7 linked regions of the Homo sapiens genome follow. The protein of the gene in region 2 purifies or fractionates together with the protein of the main gene of each other region. This does not show direct contact. Each region holds a gene or a part of one and is shown on either strand. Other genes may lie near its edges. The genes, in order: PRKCI, PDGFD, UBR1, MAEA, ACTR1B, LRP2 and KLHL22.

Region 1 (3,500 bases), on a different chromosome or scaffold from region 2:
ATTGCACTCTAGCCTGGGTGATGGAGGAAGACACTGACTCAAAAAATGAAAAATAAATGAAAATAAATGAGTGCAGCCAGGCAAGGTGGCTCATGCCATAATCCCAGCACTTTGAAAGGCCAATGTGGGAGGATCGCTTCGGTACAGGAGTTCGAGGCCTGCCTGGGCAACACAGGGAGACCTTGTCTCTACAAAAAAATTAAAAATTAGCCAGACATAGTGGTGTGTGCCTACAGTCCCAACTACTTGGGAGGCTGAGGTAGGAGGACTGCGTGAGCCTGGGCAGTTAAGGCTGCAGTGAGCTGTGATTACACCACTGTACTCAGCCTGGGTGACAGAGTAGAAATGTGCCTCAAAAAAAAAAAAAGTGCAAAATACTTATCATGGTTCTTTTTCTTTTGTTCCACTTTTTTCAGTTGAGTTTTTTTTGAGACAGAGTCTCGCTCTGTCACCCAGGTTGAAGTGCAGTGGCACAATTACAGGCGTGAGCCACCACACTCGGCCTCAGTAACATTTCTGAATAACACTAACTTTAATTCTTTAAAAGCTTTTTTCTTTAATTGACAGAAATTTTTCTATTATATTTCACTAAGATAAGAGATTATTACTATAATTCAATACTGTCTAGAAAATTCTAGCCTATGGCTAAAAATAAATAAGGCTGGGCGCAGTGGCTCACACCTGTAATCCTAGCACTTTGGGAGGCCAAGGTGGGTGGATTACCTGAGGTCAGGCGTTCGAGACCAGTCTGGCCAACATGGCGAATCCCCATCTCTACTAAAACTACAAAAATTAGCCAGGTGTGGTGGTGCACGCCTGTAATCCTAGCTACTCAGGAGGCTGAGGCAGGAGAATCACTTGAACTTGGGACGCGGAGGTTGCAGTGAGCCGAGATCACGCCACTACACTCCAGCCTGGGCGACAGAGTGAGACTCTGTCTCAAAAAACATAAAATAAATAATAAATAAATAAATAAGATATAGAAAAGAAGAGGCAAAATTGCTACTTGCAGATGACATTATCTAGCTTAAAAATTCTAAGACAGTTAAATTATTAGTAAGGTGGAAAGTTTAATTTAAACATACAAAAAGAAAACAGTATGTAATAGGTCTACAAGAAGACCCCATTCACAAAAGCACATGATTATAAAATATATAGGAATAGGCCGGGCACGGTGGCTCAAGCCTGTAATCTCAACACTCCGGGAGGCCGAGGCAGATGGATCACCTGAGGTAAGGAGTTCCAGACCAGCCTGGCCAACATGGTGAAACCCCATTTTCACTAAAAATACAAAAATTAGCCAGGCATGGTAGCGCCTTGCCTGTAATCCCAGCTACTTGAGAGACTGAGACTGGAGAATCGCTTGAACCTGGGAGGCGGAGGTTGCAGTGAGCCAAGATCACGCCACTGCGCTCCAGCCTGGGTGACAGTGCAAGGCTCCATCTCAAAAAAAAAAAAAACAAAAAAAAAAAATTAAATAATGAATCAAGCCATTCCATAACATATATCAAAGTTAACTATAATATTACAATAATTAAACCAATAGTGGTATGTGCAAAAATAGATCTCTCCCCTAAAATCAATGAAACAATAGAAAGTACCTACGCACATTGTGGGAAATTTAGTACATAACAGAGTTACCATTTCAAATCAGTGGTGAAAGGACAATCTGCCCAATAATGGTATTAGAATAAATTTTGGAGAAAAAAAAAGTTGTGTCAGTACCCTATAAATGACTAAACCCCAAAATACCAGATTCACTGAAAAGATAATCACTTTAAAAGTTTCATAATAAGCCAGGCGCAGTGGCTCACGCCTAAAATCCCAGCACTTCGGGAGGCCACAGCGGGTGAATCACTTGAGGTCACGAGTTTGGGACCAGCCTGGCCAACATGGCAAAACCCTGTCTCTACTAAAAATAAAAAATTAGCCGGACATGGTGGCGCATGCCTGTAATCCCAGCTACTTGGGAGGCTGAGGCAGGAGAATCACTTCAACCCAGGAGGCAGAGGCTGCAGTGAGCCAGGATCGTGCCACTGCACTCCAGCCTGGGCGACTGAGCAAGACCTTGTCTCAAAAAACAAACAAAAATTAGCCGGGTGTTGTGGCGTGCGCCTATAATCCCAGCTACTTAGGAGGCTGAGGCAGGAGGATTGTTAGAACCCAGGAGGCAAAGGTTGCAGTAAGACGAGATCACGCCACTGGGTTCTACCCTGGGCAACAAAGCAAGACTCTGTCTCAAAAAAAAAAAAAAAAAAGTTGCATAATAGAAGAAAAATAGAATATTTTTAGATGAAAAACACTTTTACCTAAGACAGTAAATCCAGAAACTATCAAGGAAATTTTTAAAAAGGACAGGTTTGATGACATAAAAACGAAAAACTCCAGACTAGCAACAGATTGGGGAAATGCTGGCAACTTTAACAAAATGTCAATGTCCTGTCAACAAATTAATAAGAAAAATAATACAATAGAAAATGGGTAAAATAGGAACAATCCAGAAGAAATACAAATGATCATTAATATATAAAAGATACTTGTAAAAATAAATTACCATTTTTTGCCAATCTGACAGTCAAAAATTTAAAAGACAGATAACATGCAATGGGAATATAAGGCAGAAGCTTCACTAGTCCTGTTGTTAAGAATGTAAATTAAGCTCTTTTGGGAAACAATATCATATTTCAAGATAGGCATATCTTTGACCATATTTACAAGAATATGTATTAAATATAAGGAGGTTCCTTCAACATTATTTGAAATAGTGAGTTGATGAAGACAACTTTAAATGTTCATCAATCCGAAAAAAGATTAAACATATTATGGTGGCTGGGCGCAATGGCTCATGCCTGTAATTTCTACACTTTGAGAGGCCGAGGCAGGAGAATCACTTGAGCACAGGAGCTTGAGACCAGCCCCGTCCCTACAAAACATATTAAAAAAAATTAGCTGAGCCTAGTGGCGTGAGCTAATCCTAGCTACTCAGGAGGCTGAGGTGGGAGGACTGCTTGAACCCAGAGTGGTTGAGGCTGCAGAGGGCCTAGATCATGCCACTGCACTCCAGCGTAGGCAACAGAATCAGACTCTGTCTCTTAAAACAACAACAACAACTGTAGAACACTGTATTACCAACTATAAAGAGGTCTGTCTACCCTGGAATGAAAAGATGACCACGATTTTTAAAATCAAGTTGCAGATGCATGTGTGGAAATATGAACTCATTTATTGGAAAAATAAAAGGGTATGTCTGTGTGTGTGTATGCACATACATATCTATACTTATAAATATACCGATATGATATAGAATATCCCTAACTGTTAACAATGGCTATCTCTAGAAAGTGGGAGTGAGACAGCCATAAAAAATAATGAAATCACGTCTTCTACACCAGCATGGATGGAACTGAAGGCCATTATCCCTAGTCAAAAAAATCAGAAACAAAAAGCCAGATACCACATATTCTCACTTATAAGTGAGAGCTAAACAAAGGGTACACATG
Region 2 (3,500 bases):
TCCTGACATGGCGGCTTCACTCTCAGGAGAATACACGGATACAGCTAGTGTTTGACAATCAGTTTGGATTAGAGGAAGCAGAAAATGATATCTGTAGGTAAGTTGGGAAAAAAATTTTTACGGTACTATTTCAAGGTGAAAAAAGAAAAAGATGAATTTAAAGCATCGTATCAAACATTCCTTTTGAGCCTTTTAAATGGACCCAACATGTGTCGCTTCTTTTTCAAAAAGCCTAAAGACCCTAACAGACAAGATAGCGTAGACTGCTGAGGCAGAGAGCCGAATAACCTGGCAGTACTCACAGAAACTCACTTGTGCAACTGTCAGGACTGTGTGACCTCCAAAGAAGGGTGAAATCTGGAGGTCCTCTCCTTTTCCAGGCACAGAGCAGCATTTATGCACAGGTATCCAGCATCCCAGGTTACGGGCAGCTGCATCATGTGTGGTCAAAGCCTGCCATGGGCTTAGGGAGCATAAACCCCTGCCCGGCTCCCGCTGACCCAGGCCTTCCTACCCATAATGAATTACGCCAGCACTGGGAGATGATGGTTGGGGAAGCTATCAGGGCCTGACCCCGAATTCATAGTGTTAAGGCCTCAGATACGGGTGGGAAGGAAGAGAAAGCTCACCCCAGATTCCCTGTGCTCCTCAGAAGGGTCTGTTTCTTGCAGTTTCTGGGTCACAAGTAGAAGATGAAAGCTGTGTCTGATAATCTTCTCTCTTCTTAGCATATTTATCAAAGAAAGCCTGGACTGTTGTTCTTTGAATGTCCGCTCACAGCATTTTACTCGCTTAATTAGCATGTATAAGACTTGAGGAAGATTTTTTTTTTCTTTTTTGTACTTTACTGCACACACTTGTTCTGCATTGCCAATGAACTACTGAACTGCTAAATCCTTTCAGCGGGTTTATTTTCCTTTGAATAATAAAAAGAGGGGCCTCAAATTTGGTTGTCCTCTGTTGCATGTTTATTATGCTGACAGCTTTTATTATGTTGCTATTTTGCTGAGAATAACAGCACTGACTATTACTTTCTAGGACCATAGAGGGTAATGTATGCCAGAAAGCAGAGATGAATACATTAAGGAAGAGCCAGTTAATATTTACAAAGAGAATAAACTAATGCTGATCTTGCGTCTTTTCCATCTCAAAAAAAAAGAACTAATATTCTGTGCCTAAAAAATCATGGGAAAAAGACGCTATTAAAAGATTATTAAAGGTGATGATGTGGAGGGTACCATGATCTGTTTCTGCCCATAGAACACTTCCAATACCAAATCTGTGAGGTGAGGGTTTTTTCCCACAGCAGTTAATCCTCCAACACCAGCTTGTTTTGTCCTATTCAATTCAATTCAGACACTACCTGGAATCAGTGTCAGATCCCACAAGTTAAGGCTCAGTCCCACAAGACTGCCTCCATGTTCTATGTCAGTTGCAGCTTCCAAGCCTCTCCTACTTCTGATCAACCAGCTGTAAATAGGGGTTCCATAACCCTCTTCTTGGGTTGAATAATTTGCCAGAACAGCTCACAAAACTCAAGGAAACAGTTTCCTTGCTATTACCAGTTTATTATAGAGGATGCAACTGAGGAACAGCCAAGTGAAAGAGATACATAGGCAAGATGTATGGAAAGAGTGCTTTCTCTGGGTTTGCAACCTTCGAAACACCTGGATGTATTCACCAGCCTAGAAGAGTATTGATGGAAGTCTCATTGTGAAGGCACGATTAATTAAATCATTGGTGATTGAACTCCATCTCCAGGCCCTCTCCCTCCCCAGAGGTCTAGGGGTGGAGCCAAAATTTACAACTCTCTAATCATGTCTTGTTCTTTCTGGTGATGAGCCTCCATTCTGAAGCTACCTCGGGGCCTCCCAACAGGTACTTCCAAAAGGCAATGAATTTATTCATTAGGATAAATTCTGGTATGGTTGGAAGGGGGCTTATTATGAATAAAAAAAGATGCTCCTCTAACCCCAGCACTCAGAAATTCCAAGAGTTTTAGGAGCCTGTGCCAGGAACAAAGACCAAATATATATATTTCTTATTATTACAATATCACAGAAGGGAAGCCAGGTCTCCACTACTGAGCTGGAGTTTTGATCCTAGCAGTGAGTCCTTTTGACATCCTGGCCTTGAAATTAAGGGAGGAACAGTGAGGATGGTTTCCTTTCTGAACCATTAATCAAATCTAGTTGCTCCTCAAAATTTATGGAAGGAAGTAGAAGTATAGCAGGTAGAAAAGAGGAGAGAAAGACGGGAAAGAGACAGACCAGAGACTTGTCTCAGAACCCTCCCTAAGAGATAAAACAGCCCTCTCTTGACTTCAGGTTCAGAGTTAAAGTTACAATGATGTGTTCTTTAAACAAAAGTGACCTATGGTGTTATTAAAAGTTTCAATTATAGTCATGCTTTGTGCAGTAAATATGATTTACATGTATTGTATACAAAATGAAATGGAATTGATTTCCTACCATCTGTTCCAAAGCCTCCTTGATGTTTACATTGTAATATTTTGTTGCTTGCATAATGATACTTTGTTAGTGCTTTTTACCTTCCAAGCACCATATAAACATTAAGTGATTAATTTACACAGCACCCAAGAGATATGGAGCTGGTAAAATTATATAAGCCTTCTTATTTTATCCATAAGGAAACTGAGGCAACGGACATAAGGGCCTTGTAAATCACTGTTAGAGAAATTTAGTCACAATATCATTATTTTTTACTTTCTTTTTACATTACCTTGCCCAATCCAGTAGAGCTCTGAGGTGCATGAGTAAGACCAGGAAGGCCATATTGGTTTCTCTATGTATTCAGAAATAATGTTTCTTATGATGATTCCTTCTGATGATTGTAACAGAAAACTGTAATATGGATGTGAGATTTCTGCCACTGTTCACCCTGAATGCCCATCATTTGCCTGTGACCTCAGCATCTGAAGTCACTGTGGAAAAGTAGATTGTAGGAGCGAGATACTGATGACCAAAACTGAAAGAAATAGTTCAGCTTATCAAGTAGAAGGTTCCAACATCTTAGGGAGCTGAAAATAGAATAAGTGCTCCCTAGAAGATGTAAACTATGTTACTGAGGATCTCCTACTATGTGATAGAATGATGGAACACTCTGGAGGTGCTTTGAAGACCAAATGCCCACAAGGATAACTAAAGCAGCTTTTGCTGTCTTCTTGAATCCCAGGATTCTAGTTTCTCCGACCAATGCCAGAGGTGAACTTATGGTCTTAAGCTCATTCACACCCTGGTTTAACCAGCTCAGATTTTTCCAATATTGGTTAGCACACATCTCTCCTTAAAGTTACATGCTTTCCTTCATGATAAGTTTCATATTTTATGACGTGATCATTCCAAAAGATCGTTTCCAAAAAGAGAATATAGCAAGTCGTGTGTATTCATTTATTTTCTGTAATGGCATTACTGATTTTGTAAGCTATATAGATATAGGTCATTTACTTTCTCAAGAAAGCACCGAATGCAGTAAATTAA
Region 3 (3,500 bases), on a different chromosome or scaffold from region 2:
TAGCAAAAAGGAGTTAAAAAAATGTTAACAGCCAGCCGCAGTAGCTCATGACTGTAATCCCAACACTATGGGAGGCCAAAGCAGAAGGACTGCTTGACCCCAGGAGTCCAAGTCAGCCTGGGCAACAAAAAGTGAGACTCCGTCTCTACAAAACAATAAAAAATTTGCCAGGCATGGTGGCACGTGCCTGTGGTCCCAGCTACATGGGAGGCTGAGGCAGGAGGATCACTGGAGCCCAGGAGGTTGAGGCTTCAGTGAGCCATGTTTGCATCACTGCACTCCAGCTTGGGCAACACAGCGAGACCCTGTCTCAAAAAAAAAAAGAAAGAAATTTATGTCAATAGATTGTCTGAAACTATGCACAAAGAGACTATATAGGAAGGACAGAACCAAAGTGTGTGAGTGGAAGTGAATGAAAAGTATGGTAATTACAATGGCAATGCATTTGGTGACCCCAGGAGATCCCAAGTTCCTGTAATGGGCCTCTCCTCAATACCTTCTTTACTAACCAGGTTTTACAACTCAATAAGAAGCCTTCACTGAAGACATTTATTAACGCGAGGCAGTAACAGTTCTTTGTACTTGCCATCATTATAAAGAGAATTCTGGATAACCAAAATGATCACAGGATTACTTATAAGACACAGCAAATAAGCACACTGAGTTTAACAGGTGCCCTCACCTTTTGACTTGAACAACTTACTTTAGGTCACATATTACTGCATATACTCTTCCCAATTTGTCCTGGCTATAACCCTGGAAGTTGAATTTATTGTTCCTGTCCAAGTACTCAGGTAAAACTTCTAGCAGAGTTTCAGTAATGACAGAGATAACATTCTGCTCTTCAATAAGATGTCGAGCCTGCGGAATATTTCAAGAATATTTTCTTTAGCATTAACTCATTGTGGTATGGACTTAATTTATTCATTCATTTGGTTAGTCAGTATGTCATTTTTAATAAATGTTTGTTATTGAATGTTAAACACAGTCCTTAGTTTCACTGAATAGCAACTACTAAGAAGTTATTTTCTAAAAGAAAAAATTCCCTACTCCTCAGTAACTAGACAACACCTATCTGGATACTCCAAGCCCATTAGACAGGTTATCTAGATAAATGTTTATCATCAGTAATGTGGTGGCTCATGCCTGTAATCCCAGGACTTTGGGAGGCCGAGGCAGGCGGATCACCTGAACTCAGGAGTTCGAGACTATCCTGGTCAACATGGCAAAACCCCATCTCCACAAAAAATACAAAAATTAGCCAGGTGTGGTGGCAATGCCTGTAATCTCAGTTATTCAGGAGGCTGAGGCAGGAGAATCGCTTGAACCAGGAGGCGGAGGTTGCAGTGAGCCGAGATCGTGCTACTACACCCCAGCCTGAGTGACAGAGAGAGACTTCATCTCAAAAAAAAAAATCACACAATGAGCAAGTATAACAAAGATATACTTCATGACTTCTAGCACACTACGATCTATTCTGAAATCTCCTCCTTACCCCAATCTAAACTCTCCTCTCCATCCTTTTGAAAAAGTAAAGTAGAAACAATTAACCAAGTTTGGATAACTATCTAATTCCAGACAAGAAAAGAAGTAGGGCTGGGCGCGGTGGCTCACACTTGTAATCCCAGCACTTTGGGAGGCTAAGGCTGGCAGATCACCTGAGGTCAGGAGTTTGAGACCAGCCTGGCCAACATGGTGAAACCCCGTCTCTACTAAAAATACAAAAATCAACCAGGCGTGGTGGTGCCTGCCCGTAGTCCCAGCTACTTGGGTGGCTGAGGCATGAGAATCGCTTGAACCCGGGAGGCGGAGGCTGCAGTGAGCCCAGGTCGTCCCATTGCACTCCAGCCAGGGCAACCCAGCCAAGACTCTGTCTCAAGAAACAAAAAACAAAGAAAAGAAGTGGTATACAAAGGAAGCAGAATCTTCCACTCTCCTCCCAGGCCTATGCAGCACCCTCTCTCCCAAATGCTTGACAGGCACACCCTCCCACTTCTTAGTTTTATCTTATTCTATCTGCCTACAAACAATAACTTAAAAATAAAATATTTTTGGTATTGAAAAGGCAGTGTTCATAAGTTACTCTAGAAAGTAAGAAACCAGCTCTAGGTGTCATCTGCATTGACGAGGACATCTGAACCAAGGCAGCGCCTAGTTAACTAGTCCTTGGGTAGCACTAAAGTATTCACATAGCCCAACTTAGTGATTCTAACATTGTTCTAATTTGATTCAACATTAAGTGGAATTCTTACAAAGCAAAACAAGTTTTACTTAGAAAGACTGAAAAGGAATAATCAATACATACCAGAGTAGGAACAGTAAACATCTGAACTGAAAGTGCAGTTATAGAGATACTTCTGTCATGATCATCACTGATATATTCTTTCTGCAGTTGTTTATAATACTGAAATATATAAGTAGAGAATCAATTATAAATCACTACTAAAGACCTTTAAAAAATCCCAATTTTAATAACTGCTGCAGGTTTGTTTCTATCTATAAAATGTCAAGTAATATAATTCCTATTTATTAAGGCAAGATATTATGATCAGCAAAAATATCTTAGAAGGAGAATAACAAACAACAAATCAAGTAAAAATTCACCTACTCAATTTAGCAGAGATAGAAGTGGAAACTATTAAAATATACACATAGGTTAAAAAACAAACAAACAAACAAACAAAAAACAGAGGACTGCAATGGTATAGTTTATCCTTTCTCCAAACAGAATCTGGGGCAATCTTTAGCAGCTTCCACTCTAATGGTATTGGGCAGGGAATATATTCAAAGTATTTAACAACTGATATGACCCAGAAAAACCAACCAATCAGATTGAATCCAGCCTTAAACAGAATGGATGCTGGCTGCAAATAACTTCTTTCCCATACTGGTACATAACAGCTGCAAAACAACCCTGATATACTGGGAGAACAAAAATAGGAATATACTCAGTCACATAATAGGCATCTATTATGTGTAAGGCACAAAGTTGGATACTTAACCTACTTTAAGTTAGATACTTTACCCTCCAGAATTCCTACAAAGTTTAAGGGGTAACCATGGTGTACAAAAAAAATCATCTAAGTAGGGAGATTAGCTTTTGTATAAGAAAACAAAATTTCATTTCAGATCACACATATGGTCCAATATTCTATATCTGAAGAGTTTTAGAAGAGAACATCTTGAGTTGCCATCACTGCTGAAGGATAAGACATACAACAAATGTCTTAGTTACTTTTAAGTCTGCATATAAAATCCAGGTAATGCAGGTATCTTATCCCACAGTGTCATTTGCCTACAACAATCATTATTTCTTTCTCTGCTTCCAATTCCATCTTGGGTCCTATATCTATCTTAAGTCTTACAGAATTGACTGCAACTCAAAATCAGAGGAAATCAACAAGTATGACTGGCAAGTATGATTGCCTTATATAAGGCAAAATAAAAGATTCAAAGGAGTCCTTGATCTGTATACCCTTGCAATCTAATTTGGTAGATAG
Region 4 (3,500 bases), on a different chromosome or scaffold from region 2:
GCTGCACAGGCACAGGTGAGGGGGGCACAGGTGCGGGTGGGGGGGCACAGGTGAGGGTAGCATAGGTGAGGTGCAGATGTAGGTGGGGGGCGCACGTGAAGGTGGTGCAGGAGCAGGTGAGGGAGGAGCAGGTGAGGGAGGAGCAGGTGAGGGGGGCACAGGCACAGGTGGGGGGCACAGGTGAGGGCAGCACAGGTGAGGGCAGTGCAGACGTGGGTGAGGGGGGCACAGGTGCGGGTGGGGGGGCACAGGTGAGGGTAGCATAGGTGAGGTGCAGATGTAGGTGGGGGGCGCACGTGAAGGTGGTGCAGGAGCAGGTGAGGGAGGAGCAGGTGAGGGAGGAGCAGGTGAGGGGGGCACAGGCACAGGTGGGGGGCACAGGTGAGGGCAGCACAGGTGAGGGCAGTGCAGACGTGGGTGAGGGGGGCACAGGTGCGGGCGAGGGTGGCACAGGTGTGGGTGAGGGGGTGCAGGTGAAGGCAGCACAGGTGAGGGCGGTGCAGACACAGGTGAAGGGGCAAAGGCGCAGGTGTGGTGGGCACCGGCATGGGTGAGGAGGGCACAGGCGTGGGTGAGGGGGCACAGGCGCTGGGGAGGGGGGCACAGGCGCGGGTGAGGGGGGCAGAGGCACGGGTGAGGGGGCACAGGCGCGGGTGAGGGGGTACAGGAGCGGGTGAGGGGGGTACAGGTGTGGGTGAGGGGGTATAGGAGCGGGTGAGGGGGTACAGGAGCGGGTGAGGGGGGTACAGGTACGGGTGATGGGGCTCATCCACCACGGGTGTGGGAGCAGGTGCAGGTCAGGCAGGGTCTGCGTGACAGGCATGGGCGAGCATGAAGTAGGAGGGAAAGTCTGAGAGAAGGACAGGTATGAAAGGCTCGCCTGGGAGGAGAGGAAGGAGGCTGCTCTGGGCCCCTCCCTCGAGTGGGGCAGCACTCAGGGTCCCGGTCCGGGTCCACAGTCAGCCATCAGCACAGCAGGTGCTTTCTTCTGCTCAGCCACATTCAGCTCAACAGTCACTAAATGTGGTATTAACACAGTGAATAATTCTTTTTGTTCAGGTTTTCAAAATAATGGCCCCTAGCTATAACGATTCTGAAATAACAGACCTAAAAATCATCAGCAGTTACCCCGGCAGGAAGTGTGCTTTGCGATGCCTGGGTCAGCACCCAGACATCCCCACTCGGCCTGAAGCCCCCAGAGGGTGGGGCTCGCAGCACAGCCTCTCTGCAGACGGGGCAGTCACATGCTACAGGCACCGGCCGGCCTTGTCTTCATTCTGGTGCCAATGTGTCTCCTTGGGCTTGCTTCCCATTCTGCTGACCCCTGTACCCACAGACCGAGTCACTGCCCAGCACCCAGTCTCACTGTGAGACCCTCCCTGCACAGCTCTGGGACACCCCCAGCCACATCACCCCAATGGTGCTGTGTGCCTGTGTGCCTACTGGGGTGAGAGCCGGCCAGGACTTCAACACGGTCCACAGAGCCTCACCCCAAAACTTAGCTCCGCCAACCAGCTCACAATATCGCATTCACTGGAGGAAGCTCATCCCCACCCCCGCCCCTGCCCCTGCCCCTGCCCCCGGCCCCACCCCCGTCCCCTGCCACTGTCCAACATCACCTCAACCTCATCAGCGTCTTTAAAGGATCTGAGATGTCTGTGTGTGCTTGTGCTGATGCCTCCCTCCCACCGGAGCGTAGACAGGGGCCTCACTTGTCTCCCCATCATGCTAGCCCAGGGCCTGACTGTGCAGGGCCTGACCGTACCTGGCCGATGGAGGCTCTCAGACCACTGCTGCGGAGGGGGGTATGGGAGAAGCTAAGTGCACCTGCAGCCCTGCTCTGCAGCCCGGCGGCGGTGCCTTGCTTAGGTCCCAGGGCCGCTCCAGGCCTCACGTCAGTACTGCCTCCAACCTAGCCCAGCCATTACGGTGAATCAGGCATTAAAAAGCACTTTCTTGACTTGAAATGTGTTAAAAAAATAATACTTAAAAAAACAAAAACAAAACCAACCCCCCAGCTAGCAGTGAATTCAAGTCTACATCCTTATCTCAGCCTTGCCCAACCAGCTGGAAAGGCCCAGGCCTGGGAGGGAAGACCTGTGCCAGCGCGGAGGCCGCGGAAGCCAGCCCAGGGCCAAACCACCAGCAAACGGTGGGAGAGGCGAGGGGAGTGGAGCTGGGAGCCACAAAGGGCAGACCATGGCTCTTCTGGGCAGAAGGAATTTCCACTGTGCTCTAGAGACCGGGCGGATTCTGGAGGGCTGTGACGTTACTGCAGATAAAGTACATCGAAAAAGCCGGCCACAGAAGAGGTGGAGACCCGGCCTAAGACTCCTCAGACACGGCATCACCAGGGTCCAACCCAATGTGTGTGTCAGTAAGTCAAACGCTTCGTGGTTGCCTGTGTTTCTCACACTCGAGAACACATGATCCTCCCAAATCCAGCCAAGATGGAGTGAAGAAAACTACAAAAGGCGCAGGAGCAGTTACAACTTCAGCACACAGCTGGCACCCGAACTCCCTACCACAGGCACAGACCCAGGCTGTGAGGCATCAGGGCCATGCCTGGGCAACCAGACTGTCATCAAACCAAAGGCAGAACATGCAAATCTTCCTGTAGAGAATTCAGACACCTGAGAATGCAACCACAAGCCCGGTGTTTCTCAGCCTGTCCTCTGGGGAGAGGACAGCATCACCACCTTGGGTGTGAGAGGACTCACTGGAGCTGGGAACCCTTGCTGGGGCTCCAGGAGAGGAGAGGTGGGCCCAGGTGGGGTTCACAGAGAGGAGCCAGGTCCAGACCAGGGTCTCCAGGTGATGAACACCACTTCCCGCCCTGGGCTGTGCAGACACCCATGTGAAATTCTCTAAACTATTATTTTTCTTCGGCTATCTGAAGGGAAATAGTAGGAGTAAATACACCAAAATGTTAATGAAGTTCTCTCTGTGCAGCAGGGTAACTTGAAGAAAAAACAAATTACTTTTATTTATTTATTATTTGAGACAGGGTCTCACTCTGTCACCCAGGCTGGAGGGCAGTGGTGCAATCTCGGTTCACCACAGCCTGGATCTCCTGGCTCAAGTGATCCTCTCGCCTCAGCCTCCCAATTAGCTGGGACTACAGGCGCACACCACCGCACCCAACTCATCAAATTACTTTTATAATCAGAAAAAAAAAAACCTTTTACAAAATAATGAAAGCAAGGGCTTCCAATTCAAGATGGTGAACTATGCATGTTGAATTGAAAGATGGTGAATTCCTGAGGTCAGGAGTTCAAGACCAGCTGGACAACATGGAGAAACCACGTCTCTACTAAAAAATACAAAAAATTAGCTGGGCATGGTGGCGGGTGCCTGTAATCTCAGCTACTCGGGAGGCTGAGGTAGGAGAATTGCTTGAATCTGGGAGGCAGAGGTTGCAGTGAGCTGAGATTGTGCCACCGCGCTCCAGCCTGGGCAACAGAGTGAGACTCCGTCTCAAAAAAGAAAAAAAAAAAAAA
Region 5 (2,803 bases), on a different chromosome or scaffold from region 2:
CACGGCACCATCCTGGAAACACTGTAGGTTCTCAAACACTTAAGAAAGTAAAGAGCAGACATTCTCCAAACCCTAATTCCTCACTGCTCTTCTGCCTATTCCTCTAGGGCCTGGCTAAGCTCACAGCCTCTCTGCCTCTCCCTGCCTTCCCCATCCTGACTTGTCTGAAGGCGTGAGCTTGCATCATTGCTGGTGTCCACCAGCCTTAGCCCTGGCTGAATGGGGTGAGCAGAGGTGCTCAAATAGGCCTGTCCAGGGTCCGGGGGCAAAGAAGGTAGCCTGGTTCTACTTCCCCTGGTGGACTGCAGCAGGGGAGGTAACAGGCGAGGGAATTATGCTACAGGGTGAGAGCCCAGCCTCCTGAGGCTTTTTGTGCCACGTTGGCGGGCCAACCACTGAAACCTTCATGCCGCTAAGCTAGAGCCAGTGCCTTGCTGCATTCTCTCTGGTCCTTTCTCTGAAAGTCCCCAGGGATGGAAGAACAAACGATAGCACAGAGAGCCACAAGAAAACAGAGCCACACACTGGGCCTTGTCCATAATTATTACTATAATGATTTACAAAAGTTTTTTTCAGGCAACCGTGTTAAATTATTGTACATATCTGAGAGAGGGAGGTGGGGCCCTGGCCACAGCAAAAGTGACGACCTCTTTCTTGGGTGAGGTAAGAAAATGTCCCCCACCCCCTTTTAGGTCTGACTCCTTATTAAGTGGCTTCCCCTCAATAAATGATGAGCATCAACCCTTTCCCACCCAGGGTGCCGAGGGTAGAGGGAGGAGCAAGTGGATGAAGTGCTCTGAAAAGGATAGTGCAGCGGCTCTAGCCACCGTGCATCCTCTGCCCTGGCTCTGAAGGGCCTGACCCTGGGCTGCACCCCCTTGCTGGGGATGGAAGACCATTCAGTACTCAGCCCTACACCAGGGCATCTACCCAGGAAGATAGGAGGACAGAGTGTGAAAGGGGCTGTGTCACCCTGTCAGGTCACGAACAGGAGGTGGCAATGGATGCAGTGACACACCAGTGGGAGCTGCTGGCTGCCCCTTGCAGCCCACTCCCCAAACTGGCTACCCAGGCATCCAGGCATTCTGGCCCTGGAGCTCAGGGAGGCAGCCCTGAGAGTCGGAGCAGGGAACCACAGGCCTAGCTGGCCCTGCCAGGGGGATACCCACAACAGCCTGACATGGCGCTCAATTCCCACACGCCAGCTCAAGGCTCCTGTCCATGCAGCTCAATGTTACTTGTGTGTGCATGTCCTGTGTAGAGGGGAAGGCTGCAGGGGGGCACTGCTGTGCCACCCACCCAGGGGTTCAGGGCATGCAGGGGACCCTAAGCCTAGTATACGAGCCAAGACCAAAAAGGGTTAAAGGCTCTGTCTCCCCTCCCTCCCCCTCTCCCAACATGCCCCGCCCTCCTTGGGCACTAGAAAGTTTTGCGATGAATAGCACGGGAGCCATCCTCTTCATACTCCTTTTTGGACACCCACATCTTCTTAAAAGTGTCCAGCGAGGCCAGGATGGAGCCGCTGTGGGGATGGAGGGATAGTATTGCTGTGGACCTGTCAGGGAGCCAACCACCTTCCTGGGTGCTCAGAGTTGCATTTCCCTAATTTGGGAGGGAAATCCACCCACCTCCACGTGGCCTAGGCCAACAATGGGAGGAGCATCCAGGGTAAAGTGGTCTCCTCCCAGAGCCCTCCCTTGAGCCCCGCCTCACCCAATCCATGTGGAGTACAGCCGTTCCTGCGGGGCTGAGATCTAGAAGGAGGAAGTGGCCACGTTAACTGTGGATCCCCACCCAGAAGCCATCCTCCCAGCCTTGGGGTCACCTTCCCCAGGTCCTGAAGCCTGACAGCAAAGGCATAAGCTGGGGAGTGGCAGCAGCAGCCTTGGGAAGAACAGGACTAGGTGGACGTGAGCTGGTGAGCGGGTCTGGGGGCAGCATTCAACCTTCCTCCCCATGCCAAGGCTGCCAGCGCCCTAGTGCCCCAGGGGGAGTTTCTGTAACCTCACCTTGATTTTGATATCCTTTGGGGCAAGCTTCTTCACTTCACTGAGTAATCGGTCTCCGAAGCCTGTGAACACAAAGCTGGCTGAGCCTGGGGTCTGCACCCGGCCTCCTCGCTGCTAGCTCCCGCACCCAGCCTTCAGGGCCCCCAGCTACTGCTGGTCCTCTATCAGCAGCTCTTCCCAGGATGAAGGGCAAGGCTGAGAAATGATCCAGCCCCATGGCTGCCTGCGGGCCCTGCGTCCTCACAGAGGCAGCGTGAGATGAAGCCGCACATGCTCCTTGCTCGACTCTCACAATACACTTTAGAGCTTGTGTAAACTTCTCCTCTATTCACAGAGTAAACAAAATTTAATTTTAAATTTTGGTCTGTTAAAAAAAATGTTCATTGAGCACCACCAAAAAGCCAACAGAATATGGCTCTGGGTAGGGGTATACTCTCTGAGGGTCCAGCTGCCCTGGGCCTCGTCTCACCACCACCAACTCTCAAGCCACAGTACCTTTGAAAAGCGTTGAGCCACCTGAGAGCACGATGTTGGCGAACAGCGTCCGGCGCAGGTCCATGTCGGACTTGTGTATGGCGAAGGCCACCACCTCATGGAGCCCCTCACTCTCATCCCCGACAAGGTCCGGCTGGAACAGCAGCTCGGGGGCCCGGAATCGTGCAGGCCCCACCTTTAGTGTACAAGATTGAGGCAGACAGGCTTCCTGGAGAAGCGGGCTACCCCTTCCCCCAGGCTGGGCATCGGCTGCCACTCCAGTGCCAGGCCCGGCCACTTACATCAAGCGTGCTGCCGTC
Region 6 (3,500 bases), on a different chromosome or scaffold from region 2:
AGAATTTGGCAACTAAAATTGCTCAGCTTCAAAGCAAATGAATGCTGTTCCATAGTTTATATTTTTATATCTCTTTCTCTTGAAAATTTAGAAAATTTCTAATGCAGAAATCAGGTGCAAATCTAAGTGTAAAAAAAACAAATCCACATAATTTAATATTTTAGCCACTTTTGTCTCCAGATTATGTTAATAACAGAAGAAAATGATAAGGATTAATTTGTTATAAATCTGTAAACTGAAACACCGTATCATTTATCAAATAGACACGTAGCTTAATCTAGATTCAATGTATCTTAAATGGTCTTAATAATTGTCTAGAAAAACAAACCTGTAGCACATGGAGTTAGGCTAAACTTTCTAGCATAAAATAAGATGACAGAGATGCAAACATATTAAAATCACCATATAGCTTACATACCTGCTACCCAATCCACTGCAATACCCCGGACTCCATTTTCTCCTATTCCATGTGTCACAATGTTCATCAGAGAAGATCCATCTGGTTTAATTCTACGGATCGCATTATCAGATGCCACTGAGCTGCTAAAATCACACCAATAAATAAAGCCAGAGGACACATCCACATCCACATGCAGTGCGTTTCGTCCTGGAAGTTAAGAAAAGATCATTAAAAAATGCTGTCACTGAAATTAGAACTTTTAAATGTCTGCCCTTCCTCTCAAACCCTCATTCCCAACCCCCTGCTCTGAGCATCTCCCCATTACAAAATGAAACCCTTTTTTCCCAGTTGCAGTGAGCAGACCCACATCTTGGTTTCTACTCTTTCCCACAATAAGGAGCTCTGGCTCCCGGGAGAAATGTTGATTATAGGTTTAGGCAGGGAAGGTACGAAGTGAGTGTGAAACATCTTATTGTACCAAGAAACAAGGCATACACAGAAATATACAGGTCGCCACTTGAAGAGGTTCTCCCTGGCCAAAATGGATCCACTAAAACATCAAAAGAAGGATTACAGTAATTGACTGTAACACACTGAATTTAAAAAATAAAAATTTGAGCCCATAATAATAATAAATTATTTAAAAAGTAAACCGGGGAGACACGAAGAGCTTTCCTTTATAGAAGAATATTATCTAACAAATGTAAAGGGAATGCTAAAATAAGAAAATCACCATTTTGCAATCCTCGATTAAATAATCATTTCAAACAAGGATCATCCATGGCTGCCAAAACCAATGGGTAAAAGGTGCTTGGGAGCCAAGACATTCACAGGGCCTAAGTGTGATTGCATAGATTCCACCAAAATTAAGAAGGAAAAAAAATACAGCTTTAAAAAGCAGCAGTGTAGCAGTGACCACCTTAACCAAGTGATCAAACTCAAATGCCACTAAGAGCAGGGCAAGCTGACATTATGTTCTTCCTAATAAGATTCTGTATCAACTAACACAGCATAACCTATAAAGTATTATTGCTAAATGTATTTAACCTTGATCTAATCAAGCAATTAGACCTAACTTCCATTTCATGAGAACTGCAGGGTAAAAAATGAAAGACAGACTAAATATTCAGACAAATCCTCAGTGTGGGATTCTCAAAGACAACAGGTCTGCCTCTTTAAAACATCAATGTCATAGCAAAAAGCTAGAGGCAACTACTCCAAACTGGAAGAAACTAATGAGATATTCCCAGTGCAGTGCATGAATCTTGATTAGATCTTGGATGGAACAAAACAGCTATATATAAAATATTGTGAGGCCAACTGGAGAAATATGATTATGAATATTTCATAATGCCCTTTGAAACTGTATGCTAACATATGTAGGGGTAAAGTGGCATGGTATTAAAATTTATTTTTAAAAGGTTCATAAAAAATGAATGTGAATGCATATGCATGTACACACACACACATACAAATTGAGAGCTCAAATGTGAAGAAATGTTAACAACTGTTAAATCTTGGTAAAGGGTATAAGGATATTTCCTAAATCTTTCAACGTTTCTGTGTTTGAACATTTTTTTAATGAAAAGCTGGGAGAAAAAAACTATTGAATTTGTCATATCTGTACAAGATGATAACTTAGATCCATAACTTTTTAGATATGGAAAAACAAAGATGAGTCATGGGTCCACGTGAACATGACCATCAGGCAGGAGGACGTGTGGGACTGGAAGCTCTCTGATTCCCTTCTCCAGGTGCATTTCTGTATTTTCTGACCATCTCTACAACCCCTTCATTGACTTCATCCTTTTTTCCTTCCTTTCTACCCTCTATTTCTCTCTTTAGCCTGTGACATTCTCCTAGCGATGTTAGAAAACTCTTAGTTCCTCTTGTGCTAAGGTATACCTAAAAACCTTGGCTCATCTAGGAAGCAAGTGATCGTTTCATACATTCACAGTATGTAAGCACAAAGTGCTGCAAAAATATGATTACTAAAGAGGGACTGACACTGTGAACTCTTTTGCTTCAATTCACCAAATATATATTAATAAATCATATTTGTGGACTATTTCATTACCATATTAAATAGTAGTATACCTTCTACCATAAATCTCCATTAATAATCAGAAATAGGGCACAGTTCTTTGGAACACCAACTCTGTAGTACTTCTTGCAAACCCATCCTACATTCTATATTGCTCTGGGCCTGTGGTTCTTAGCGTGATCCATGGGCCAGCACCGTCAGCATGCCCTGGGAGCTTATTAGGAGTGCAGATTCTCTGGCCCTACCCTAGACTACAAAATCAGAAAAATCTGGGGACGAGGTCTGGAGCTGTGTTGGCGTGAGCCCTCCAGGTGATTCTGAGACACACTAAAGTTTGAAAAACACTTTAGGCTGTGCCAGTTGATTTAAAGGGAAAGGAAAGCTTCATTATGCACTGAATCCACACATGAAGAAATGTTTTCATGGCACCAGGGATTTCAACCTGGTGCCAGATGAAGTCAAATCTTACTTATATTGGAGTTGGCATACCTTGGCCTGCCACCGGCACCATGGTTTCTGAATGATCTGACAATTCCAAGCTAAAGCCTCTGATTGCAGACAGCATTGAAACAACAATGAAAGAGTTATATGGAGAGCAGGACCGATTATCAGGATTGAGTTTAAATCCAGTGGCACAGGCGCAGGAAAACAATCCTCCTGGTACAGGCAGGCAAATCTGCTGACAGGCATTCATGTTGTTGCTACAGCCATTTGAGGATTCGGCGGCATCTAAATGAAAACAAAATCCATTTGTAACTTTTGATCCTAGCTACTCGCCACCCCATCTCAAATTTCTTTAATTGGGTCACCAAATAATTTATTCTAAAAATTAATAACCAACATATAGTAGCTGAGTTAGCAATCTAAAAACAACATCGGAGAGACTAGAGCTTATACAATAACACCTAAAGGTATGAAACCAGTAACCCAACTATTGTATAATAGTTAGAGAATGGGGCTTCACTTGTTTTCTTCTACAAATCATGCGAGGATTAGGGAGGTCAGTATATAAATCTGCTCATAATTTGCCTATGAACTGGCACTTAAAATAATATG
Region 7 (3,500 bases), on a different chromosome or scaffold from region 2:
ACCACACACAGACTGGCCAGCTCTGTTGCTCCCCTTGCTCCTGTGCCTCCCTCAGGCTCACCTGTTTTCCCTCTATTTCCAAATCCCCTAATTCCTTCTCCCCTCCCACCTCTAGTCCAACTTCCTGATGGCCTTCTTCCTGATGACCTGTGTGCCATCATGCCCAAGACTCTTCATCTCATTGTATCTTCTTCAGCGGCAAAGTCAAACAGAAGGGTTTTGGGAAACAGACTGACCTGGGTTGGAGCCCAACTCCACAGGGACTTACAACATGACCAAACTGAGCCTCGAGCTCCCCAATTTTAAAAAGAGAGATAAAAGTACCTACCCCATTGGGGTATTCTAAAATTGGTAAAACAATGAACATGAAGCATAAGCACACACCAGGTTCTCAAGAGCTCTTCCTCCCTCCCATTGAATGAACAAAATTGGGTTCTTCCTCATAGTAATGGATGCATAAAAATGGCAAGACCTGAGTAGTGGTCAGGAGACACACAGCCAGGAGTCTGGGAGGTGGGTGCCAAGGGGGTGGCATTTCCAGGGCCTACTTTCCTTTACTGAAATTCTGAGAGTCAAGCACAGTAACTGTGATTGAACCTGATGCATTTAAATTCATCTGCATTGCCTTTTAAATTAAAGATTATCTTCTAATAATTGAGTCAGTACGTTCAAAAACCGCAAACTGATTTGAATTGGAGCCTCTAAAACCTAATCAGTAAAATGAACCTACTGCAAATGCACTTTTGCCATGGAGCAACCAAAAGTGACTGTGGATAGCCAGCTGTTCAGGTCAGGGAGTGGCCAGTCCCACACTGTGAGGCATGGCCAAGCTGCAGGCTCTGTAGGCACAGCACAGTCAGCTACAAGATGTGAACATCTGTCTTCTCCACCTCACTTCATCCTACTTTCCTCTCCCCAAAATATGTTTATTCTCCAATTACCTCCAGTCATGCATCACTTAATGTTGGGGATACATTCTGAGACTTATATCGCTGGAGGCAATTTCCTCAGTGTGTGAACATCAAAGGGTACACCTACACAAACCTAGGTGGTAGAGACTACTACACATCTAGGCCATAAGGTACAGCCAATTGCTCCTAAGCTACATACTTGTACAGCATGTTACTGTAGTTCTGAATGAAAAAAACACACTGTTTTTCCTCTCCTCTTATACCACAACAACAAACACAGGAGACTTCTGTGACCAAATGTGTGAGGGTTTTTCCCCATTAACAAGCAAGCAATCAATTCTGCCACAGATACCAGCTGGGTGTCTTCTAATTCAGCAGTCCCCAATCTTTTTGGCACTAGGGACCACTTTCTTGGAAGACAATTTTTCCACGGGGTCGGGGAATGGTTTCGGGATCAAACTGTTCCACCTCAGATTATCAGGCATTAGCTAGATTCTCTTTCGGAGCACACAATCTGGACCCCTCACATGCATGGTTCACAACAGGGTTTGTGCTCCTATGAGAATCTGATGCCACCTCTGATCTGACAGGAGGTGGAGCTCAGGTGGTAATGCTGGATCACCCTCCACTCACCTCCTGTTGTGCCACCTGGTTCCTAACCAGCCACAGACTGATACAGGTCTGAGGCCTGGGGGTTGCGGACCCCTGCTCTAATTCAACTCTAACACTACCTGGAGACAGTGTCTGATCCCACAGGTTGAGGGCTGAGTCTCCCAGGTTGTTTCACCTGTGCTTCTGACCAATAGGCTATAAATTGGGTTCCCAAGATCCCCTTCTTGGGTTCAACTAATTTGTTAGAGCGACTCACAGAACTCAGGAAAATACTCATGTCTACTGGTTTGTTATAAAGGGTATTGCAAAGGATACAGATGAAGAGATGCATGGGGCCAGACATGTGGGAAGTGGTGCAGAGCTTCCAGGCCCTCTCCAGGAACATCACTCTTTAGGAGCCTCCATGTGTTCAACTATCCAGAAGTTTTCCAAACCCAGTCATTCAGAATTTTTATGGAAGCTTCATTATGTAGGCATGACTGATTAAATCACTGGCCATTGGTGATGAACTTAATCTTCAGCCTGTCTCCCCTCTCCGGAGGTTGAGAGGTGAGGCTGAAAGTCCCAACCCTCTTATGCCTGCCTTGGCCTTTCCTGTCACCAGCCCCCATCCTGAAGCTACCTAGGGGCTGCTGGCCAGCATACAAAAAGGCATCACTCTGGAAAGTCCAAAGATTTTAGAAGTTGTATGCCAAGAAATGAGACAAGACCAAATATATATTTCACAATATCACAGTACTGAATACTATAGGCAACTGTAACACAATGGAATTTGTGTATCTAAACACAGACAAGGTACAGTAAAAATATGGGACCACCATCCTTCATGTGGTCTGGTCTGTCATTGACGGAAACATCACTGTGTGGCACATGATTATATATCTTTAAAAGAAAAAATGAAAAATATATGCTGATATAAAACTTGCCAAAAAGAAGAGGTCTCTCTCTTCACTACTGAGGCTCAGGGCCACCCCCAACCCCATCCCCTGGATGCTCTACTGCTTCCCATCAAACACACTCAGTTATCTGTGCCTGCCCCTGAGTCTGCCTCCAGGACCTGGGACCTCTATCCAGCCACCCACCCATTCCTTTCCCCCTCCTGGGCTGGCTCATCTTTCTCACCAAGGCCCCAGAGATGGCCACAGCCAAGGTGTATACCCCATGACCACCTCTCACTTAGGATTCTCTTGCCTGGAAACTCTGCTCTATGATAATTCTCCCTTTTCTGACCTCTCTCTTTCATCCCACACACCCTGCTCGAGCCCATCCTTCTTTCCCAGTGGTTCACATTCCCAGTTTCACCTACAGCTCAGTGCCTAATCTAGCTAGTAGCCCTCCAACTTGTCTAATTTTACTATCAAAGCTACCATTTCCATCTTGGAAACCTCACTGTTTTAATATTTTTCCTTTCTAACCCATGTGCCCTATGAACCTACTAGTTCTGATTCCTTCACCTCTCCTCCATCTCAGACAGCCACCCTCCACTCCTCCAGGGCCACCACTCTGGGTCAGACCACAGCAGTGATGCCCCTACCAGTTTCCCTACCTCTTGTCTCATCCTCCCCAGGCTGCTCTCCTTCAAGCCTTACCTACTCAGCCCCATCAGCAGTCCTTAGTCCAAAAGGGATACCTGTCATCCCCTGAACACCTTTAGTCACCCATCTAGGCCATTCTGTCTCTCATAGTCCCATATTGGTCAAGGTCTAGCTCGATTACTTCTCCCTCTATCATTGTACAGAGAACATGACAAATATGCCCCACCATTCAAACCTGCCCTTTTTTTTTTTTTTAGACGGAGTCTCGCTCTGTCACCCAGGCTAGAGTGCAGTGGTGTGATCTTGGCTCACTGCAACCTCTGCCTCTCAGGTTCAAGTGATTCTCCTGCCTCAGCCTCCCCAGTAGCTGGGATTACAGGCGTGCACCACCACACCCAGCTAATTTTCTTGCATTTTTAGCAGAAATGGGGTTTCACCATGT

The links.
Region 1: the proteins of PDGFD (region 2) and PRKCI purify together in Homo sapiens (affinity purification with mass spectrometry; one large-scale study listed by BioGRID and IntAct). This does not show direct contact.
Region 3: the proteins of PDGFD (region 2) and UBR1 purify together in Homo sapiens (affinity purification with mass spectrometry; 2 studies listed by BioGRID and IntAct, with this or other methods). This does not show direct contact.
Region 4: the proteins of PDGFD (region 2) and MAEA purify together in Homo sapiens (affinity purification with mass spectrometry; 2 studies listed by BioGRID and IntAct, with this or other methods). This does not show direct contact.
Region 5: the proteins of PDGFD (region 2) and ACTR1B purify together in Homo sapiens (affinity purification with mass spectrometry; 2 studies listed by BioGRID and IntAct, with this or other methods). This does not show direct contact.
Region 6: the proteins of PDGFD (region 2) and LRP2 purify together in Homo sapiens (affinity purification with mass spectrometry; 2 studies listed by BioGRID and IntAct, with this or other methods). This does not show direct contact.
Region 7: the proteins of PDGFD (region 2) and KLHL22 purify together in Homo sapiens (co-immunoprecipitation; 2 studies listed by BioGRID and IntAct, with this or other methods). This does not show direct contact.

What each region holds. Positions count from the first base shown.
Region 1 is NC_000003.12:170,228,924-170,232,423, reverse strand, and holds part of PRKCI (protein kinase C iota type), read right to left. Parts: intron 1-3,500.
Region 2 is NC_000011.10:103,996,648-104,000,147, reverse strand, and holds part of PDGFD (platelet-derived growth factor D isoform 1 precursor), read left to right. Parts: coding exon 1-97; intron 98-3,500. UniProt on the Homo sapiens protein: Growth factor that plays an essential role in the regulation of embryonic development, cell proliferation, cell migration, survival and chemotaxis. Potent mitogen for cells of mesenchymal origin. Plays an important role in wound healing.
Region 3 is NC_000015.10:43,054,039-43,057,538, forward strand, and holds part of UBR1 (E3 ubiquitin-protein ligase UBR1), read right to left. Parts: intron 2,405-3,500; coding exon 2,306-2,404; intron 862-2,305; coding exon 704-861; intron 1-703. UniProt on the Homo sapiens protein: E3 ubiquitin-protein ligase which is a component of the N-end rule pathway. Recognizes and binds proteins bearing specific N-terminal residues that are destabilizing according to the N-end rule, leading to their ubiquitination and subsequent degradation.
Region 4 is NC_000004.12:1,292,891-1,296,390, reverse strand, and holds part of MAEA (E3 ubiquitin-protein transferase MAEA), read right to left. Parts: intron 1-3,500.
Region 5 is NC_000002.12:97,655,439-97,658,241, forward strand, and holds the end of ACTR1B (beta-centractin), read right to left. Parts: coding exon 2,786-2,803; intron 2,680-2,785; coding exon 2,505-2,679; intron 2,072-2,504; coding exon 2,010-2,071; intron 1,755-2,009; coding exon 1,714-1,754; intron 1,523-1,713; coding exon 1,420-1,522; 3' UTR 501-1,419; downstream 1-500. UniProt on the Homo sapiens protein: Component of a multi-subunit complex involved in microtubule based vesicle motility. It is associated with the centrosome.
Region 6 is NC_000002.12:169,209,035-169,212,534, forward strand, and holds part of LRP2 (low-density lipoprotein receptor-related protein 2 precursor), read right to left. Parts: intron 3,174-3,500; coding exon 2,934-3,173; intron 608-2,933; coding exon 419-607; intron 1-418. UniProt on the Homo sapiens protein: Multiligand endocytic receptor. Acts together with CUBN to mediate endocytosis of high-density lipoproteins. Mediates receptor-mediated uptake of polybasic drugs such as aprotinin, aminoglycosides and polymyxin B.
Region 7 is NC_000022.11:20,489,296-20,492,795, forward strand, and holds part of KLHL22 (kelch-like protein 22), read right to left. Parts: exon of another isoform or gene 536-3,500; coding exon of another isoform or gene 473-535; intron 1-472. UniProt on the Homo sapiens protein: Substrate-specific adapter of a BCR (BTB-CUL3-RBX1) E3 ubiquitin ligase complex required for chromosome alignment and localization of PLK1 at kinetochores.